2 linked regions of the Homo sapiens genome follow. The protein of the gene in region 1 purifies or fractionates together with the protein of each later gene. This does not show direct contact. Each region holds a gene or a part of one and is shown on either strand. Other genes may lie near its edges.

What was found. The genes of interacting proteins can lie anywhere in the genome.
Region 2: the proteins of SERPINF2 (region 1) and PLAT purify together in Homo sapiens (affinity purification with mass spectrometry; one large-scale study listed by BioGRID and IntAct). This does not show direct contact.

The regions. Positions count from the first base shown.
Region 1 is NC_000017.11:1,752,871-1,755,765, reverse strand, and holds the end of SERPINF2 (alpha-2-antiplasmin isoform a precursor), read right to left. Parts: intron 1,645-2,895; coding exon 1,232-1,644; 3' UTR 501-1,231; downstream 1-500.
Region 2 is NC_000008.11:42,190,566-42,194,065, forward strand, and holds part of PLAT (tissue-type plasminogen activator isoform 1 preproprotein), read right to left. Parts: intron 2,647-3,500; 5' UTR 2,621-2,646; coding exon 2,549-2,620; intron 850-2,548; coding exon 807-849; intron 1-806. UniProt on the Homo sapiens protein: Converts the abundant, but inactive, zymogen plasminogen to plasmin by hydrolyzing a single Arg-Val bond in plasminogen.

The DNA.
Region 1 (2,895 bases):
AGGAAGGTGTCAGCCCTGTGCCAAGGTTTCCCCACCTGCTTCCCCCAAATCCTCAGGCACTGACTGTCTCCAGCTGGAGCTGGGTACTCCCGGCAGCCTGCCCCCGGCTGGCGGGCACCAGCTCCTGGCAGAGGGGCTGGTGTGTAATTAGAAGCTCCACAAACTCCCTAATTGCCAGTTCTTCTCCCAAACCAGGAGGCTGGCGCTGTTCTGAGCCGCCCTGTTGCCGGCTGCCTGAGGCATAGAGAGAAGAAGAAGCCAGGAGCAGAGCCAGGCTGGCGTGGAGGTGTCCCGGGGGAGGGCTGGCGAGGTCAGAGGGGACCACGGGGTGGAGGATGCCTGGCGAGCGGCCAGAGGCCAAACGTGGCACTGCGCGGGCTGCCACCCCTGCTGGGCCCAGGGTTCCTCAGCACAGTCCACCCTGCGGCCGCCTCCCTGCCTTCCCCACCATCCTCACTTGTCCCCACCCATGCCCAGAACGGTGACATCAAACCAGCCAGGCCCATTCATTCTTTATTCAGGTGGCATAAAAATCACTACAAAAACCTTACAAAAGAGCCTTAAGGAGCTCATGGGATCCTTCCCTGCCTCGGTTCCTGAGCTCCCGGGCAGAGGAGGGAGACAGGAGAGGAAGGAAGGGAAATGCTGGCAGTGTTGGGATCTCGAGGAGCCGTGGGAAGTCTGGCGTGACAAGGCACAGGGGGTAGGATGGAGGCTGATGGACTCTCGGCAGGTTAGGCCACAGCCAGGCTGTGCCAGACACGAGTTCCACGCGGGGCTGAGGACAACGCTTCGCCTCCCGAGCCACCACCAGGGCCCGTCTCTCCCCACCCTAGCCTAGGTGTCCCGGGACAAGTCCAAAGGCAGCCCTCTCCCCCTCCCTTTTTCTCTGGTAAACAAAAGTCGGGGTGTCCCAGCTGACGTGGGGAGCAGCTAACCTGTCTCCTGGCAGAACTAGAAGCACCTCCCTCCTGCCCAGGCCCCGGTGCAGGACACCCTCTGAGCCTGTTTGGAAGAAAGATGAGGGTCAGGCTCCCGGCTCCCCGATGCCTGCCCTCCTCCCAGCCGCGCCCCCCCCCCACCCTAAACTCCCCAAGAGGTGTTGGGAAAGAATGGCCTCTCTCAGACTGCCCCCGGCCCCTGCCCCAGTGCCACAAAGCCGGTTGGAAAGAGTCACATGAGTGGAGAGGCTGGTCCAGGCAGGGACTCTGGATGCCACAGCCACGGCCCCTCACTTGGGGCTGCCAAACTGGGGGTAATCCTCCTCCATGGGGGGCACAAGTTTTAAGTCAGGGCCGAAAAGCTTGTCTCCGCGGGGGAAGCCTTTCAGGCTCTGGAGGAAGTCCTTGTTGCCCGGGGAATCCTGCTGTTCCTTGAGCTCCCGCGGTGCACTGGGGTTGGGGTTCCTCACGCTGCCCACGAAGAGGGGAAGGCCTGTGGTGTCCTCGAAGATGAAGAAGAGGAAGGGGCGGTTCACGCTGAAGGAGGACAGGGACATGCGGGACATGGCAATGCTGGTGGCCGCCGCCGCCTCCACGCCGACCTCGCTGAGCTCCAGGGTGGACTGATGCTGCACGCCGGACACCACCAGGCTCTGCTCGGAGATCCCACGCAGGTCTGGGGCCTGGAACAACTCCTGCAGGCCTGCCCAGGGCCAGAGATGGCTGGTCAGAGCTGCCCTTGGCCTCACAGGCTCCTGGAGCTGCTTGGGAGGGTGTCTGAGATCCTGGCCAGGGAACAGCTTGAACTCACAGATACCTGCTTCATTCCTATCCGGTTTCCAAGACTCAGCTTAAACACCACCTCCTCCAGGAAGCCTTCCCTGATCCCCAGCTCTAAAGTCCAACCAAGGTACATTTTCAGTGTTCTCCCAGGTGAGCTGGAGAGAAGCCCTCTCTGTCTTATCGCTTATGCTGTAGTAAGTATGTGATTGCTCGTCTGCCCACCCCATTAGACTCAGCTGTTTGTACATGGTGGGCTCCCGGTACCTGGTACAGTGCCTGGAATACAGCAGCTGCTTAGCAAATGGCTGAAGGATAGATGCTTTATTTATTTATTTTAGTTATTATAATTTTTTTTTGAGATGGAGTCTCACTCTGTCATCCAGGCTGGAGTACAGTGGCGTGATCTCGGCTCACTGCAACCTCCTCCTCCCAGGTTCAAGCAATTCTCCTGCCTCAGCCTCCCAAGTAGCTGGGATTATGGGCATGCGCCACCACGCCCGGCTAATTTTTGTATTTTTAGTGGAGACGGGTTTGGCCATGTTGGCCAGGCTGGTCTCAAACTCATGACCTCAGGTGATCCACCCTCTTTGGCCTCCCAAAGTGCTAGGATTACAGACGTGAGCCACCATGCCCGGCCTTTATTTTTATTTTTGAGACAAGGTCTTAGTTCTTTTGCTGAGGCTGGAGTGCAGTGGCACAATTATGGCTCACTGCAGCCTCAGCCACCTGGGGTCAAGAGGGCCTCCCACCTCAACCTCCCCAGTAGCATGCACCACACCTGGCTAATTTTTGTATTTTTTGTAGGGACGGAGTTTCAATGTGTTGCACAGGCTGGTGTCGGACTCCCGGGCTCAAGCAATCCACCCACTTCAGCTTCCCAACGTGCTGGGATTACAGGCATGAGCCACTCCACCCAGCATTTCTTTAACAGTGTGACACCCCAGCTTCTCCTCCTTCCCCTTCCAGGGAAGCCAGCGAGGCTCACATGCCATCCCAGGCTCTCTACCCAGACTCTCCTTGCAATGCGAGGTCTTGGGCAGCAAAGCAGAGCCCCATTCCCCGGGCCACCCCAACTTCCTCTAGGACAGAGGGTCTGGGGGCTCATATTCAACCCTCTCCCCGCTCCCGAAGCCCTGGAAAAGAGCAGGACACAGGACAGCTCTGACTCAGC
Region 2 (3,500 bases), on another chromosome or scaffold:
AGGATAACCTGGTAGGAAGCAGGATGCCATCCAACAACGAAGGCATTAAGAGTCCAGGTGTGACTCGCTCTGGGGAGTGAGTCACCCTTTTTAACACCTTCACAAAGGGTATTGCAGAGTCTTCCAGACTCGAAGGAACTGGGTCGTGAAGGAGGGAAATCGAGGGCCTAAGTTGGTAGTTTTGGACCTGAAGCTGGGCCTCGCATTCCTCAGCCTTCTAGAGTCAACTCTAGATGTGGACTTAGAGACCCCACCATGTCGAGGGGTTGCCTGGGTGGGACATCCCAGTTGGGACATCCCGGTTGGATCAACAGAGGGAAATGGATACACAGGGATGTTGTTACCAAAGCTGCCGGTGCACTGTGGTGGGATCACAGCCTAGGATGAGACCCAGAGCATGGGCCTGGCCTCGGCTGTGACTGCCCTGGCCGTGCTGCTGGCGGCTGTGTGACCCTGGGCAAGCCACTTGCTCTCTCCTGGGCTCTGCCTTTTGATCTGTATAACCAGGACCTTGGGCCAGTGGCCGCCCCCCCCAGCCCCCGCTAGGTTGTGATCCCTGACAGCCTGGCTCCTTGGGGGGGAACACCTGTTTCTGCTCCCCTCAGAATCAGAACCCGCCCAGTGGCCGCAGCTGATGGGAGAATGGTGCCGACACAGGCATCTCTGTAGAATCATGCTGCAATGGCACTGTCACACCGTAGGCAGGTGGTGGGTGGAAGAAGGCAGGTGGTGGGTGGGTGATGCACCCTGCACCCCGCCCTGCCTCCCTCCCTGATGACCCCATGCACCCCTCAGCTTCACCCGACCTTGGTAAGATCTGGCTCCTCTTCTGAATCGGGCATGGATTTCCTGCGAAGAAACCAGAGGTGGAGGAAGGATCAGCACATGCCAGGTGTACTAAGAGTAAAGGCGGCCAACCCAGAAGCCCATGTGAACCTGCCGGCCAGATACCTCTGCTCAGAGACCCCCTCGGGTAACTGGCCCAAGTGAAAGTCCATCTCCTGCCTTCTAGTCCAATTCTTCCTCTCCTTCCTGACTGGCTCTGTCCAGAAGAGCTTTCTGCTTGGTGGAAATGTTTTCTGTCTGTGCTGTCCACGACAGAAGCCACACAGGGCCACCGAGTGCTTTGAATGTGGCCAGTGGGACTGAGAAACAATTTTTAACTTTAATTATTTTAAATTTAAACAGTTGCACAAGGTAAGTGGCCACCATATTGGGCAATGGAGTTGCAGCTGGCTGTCTACTCCACGCAGTCACCTGGCTCTCCCCGCTGTAGGGTCCTGTGGGAGAGGTGTGGTTAGTTTGGACTTCCGTGAGGCCCTTTATTGCTAGGCATTTTCAGAGAGTGTGTGTAGCGCTTCCATCTCAGCTAGAGAGTAGGCACCATGAGGGCAGTTTGCCTCTGCTGTGGCTCATGGCACTTGCATTGCCTTTTTCTTTTTTTTTTTTTTTTTTTGAGACAGGATCTCAGTTTGTCACCCAGGCTGGAGTGCATTGGCGTAATCATATCTCACTGAAGTCCCAACCTCCTGAACTTAAGCGATCCTCCCGCCTCAGCCTCCTGAGTAGCTGGGACCACAGGTGCATACTAGTACACCCGGCTAATTTTTAAATTTTTTGTAGAGACAGCATCTCACTATATTGCCCAGACTGGTCTCCAACTCCTGGGCTCAAGCGATCCTCCCACCTCGGCCTCCCAAAGTGCTGAGATTACAGGTGTGAGTCACTGTGCCCTGTCCTGCATTGTCTTTTATAAATACAGTCCACTTTGTATATCTGCAGGTTCCATATCTGTGGATTCAACCAAAACAGAAAAATAAAAAATAATAATATAAGCTGGGCTTGTGGCTCACACCTGTAACCCCAGAGTTTTGGGAGGCCAAGGCTTAAGCCTAGGAGTTTGGTGCTGCAGTGAGCTATGATTGTGCCATTGCACTCCAGCCTGGGTGACAGAGTGAGACCCTGTTTCCAAAAAATATATAAATAAATAATACAACAATAAAAATAACACAAATTAAAAAATACCTTATAACAACCATTTACATAGCATTAACATTGTACTAGGTATTATAAGTAATTTAGAGATGATTTAAAGTATACAGGAGGGTGTGCATAGGATATGCAAACTCTACACCATTCTATATGAGGAACTTGAGTATCCCTGGATTTTGGTATCCTTGGGGGTCCTGGAACAAATACCCCATAGATATGAGGGACAACTGTACTTTATGGATTAATTTGAATACATTCTTTAAAAACAGCTGCAAAAAAAGGCAGTCACAGGCAGGGAGTGGCATGTTAATTCCGCTTACTCAGGTCAAAATAAGTGCCTAGGGCCCAGCTACACACTGGGCCCCCAAATACAGAGTTTGCTGTACAGAAGGGAGTGTGTGCTGTGTGCTCCACAGCAATGCCAGCCCCTCGTCCCTGTGCCTCTCTGCTCCCTGACAGCATTCCAACCTCCGTGGCCCAGATGGACACAGACCCCTGGAGCCTCCGGAAGCATCACAGCCTTGAGGGGCGGGACACAGGGATCCTGCACACCAACCTGGCTGGGCGAAACGAAGACTGCTCCACACAGCAGCAGCACACAGCAGAGCCCTCTCTTCATTGCATCCATGATTGCTTCACAGCGTCCCTTAAATTCTGGAAGGAGAGAAAAAACAGCTTGATCACGGGGTGCGAGAGGTCCATGATGGCAACAGAGGAGGATAAGCCGCAATGTTGTCCTGTCTGGCTTCCTCCAGTGCCAGCCCCGCGGCAGAAACGCCAGACATGCATCTAGAAGAGGATTCTAGAAACTACATATTTTTTATTGTTGCAAAATATATATAACACAAAATTTACCACCTTAACGATGTTCAGTGCACAGTTCAGTGGCATTAAGCACGTCATATTGCTGTGCGGCCGGCCGTCACCACCGCCCATCTCCAGAACTTCTCCATCACCCCTAACTGAAACTCTGTAGCCATTAAAGAATAACTCCCCATTCCCCTTTTCCCCAGCAGCCACGCTGCTACTTTCTGTCTGTATGAACCTGACTGCTCTACATACATCCTAGAAGTGGAATGAGACAGTGTTTCTTCTTTTGCGACTGGTTTGTTTCACTTTGCAAATGTCTTCAAGGTGCATCCATGCTGTAGCATGTCCTTTTTTTTTTTTTCTTTTAAGATGGAGTCTCGCTCTGTCGCCCAGGCTGGAGTGCAGTGGTGTGATCTCGGCTCACTACAAGCTCCGCCTCCCGGGTTCATGCCATTCTCATGTCTCAGCCTCCTGAGTAGCTGGGACTACAGGCGCCTGCCACCACGCCCGGCTAATTTTTGTATTTTTAGTAGAGACGGGGTTTCACCGTGTTAGCCAGGATGGTCTCGATCTCCTGACCTCGTGATCCGCTCGCCTTGGCCTCCCAAAGTGGTGGGATTACAGGCGTGAGCCACCGCGCCCCCGCTGCCTTTTTTTCTTTTTCCTTTCTTCTTTCTTCTTTCTTTTTTTTTTTTTTT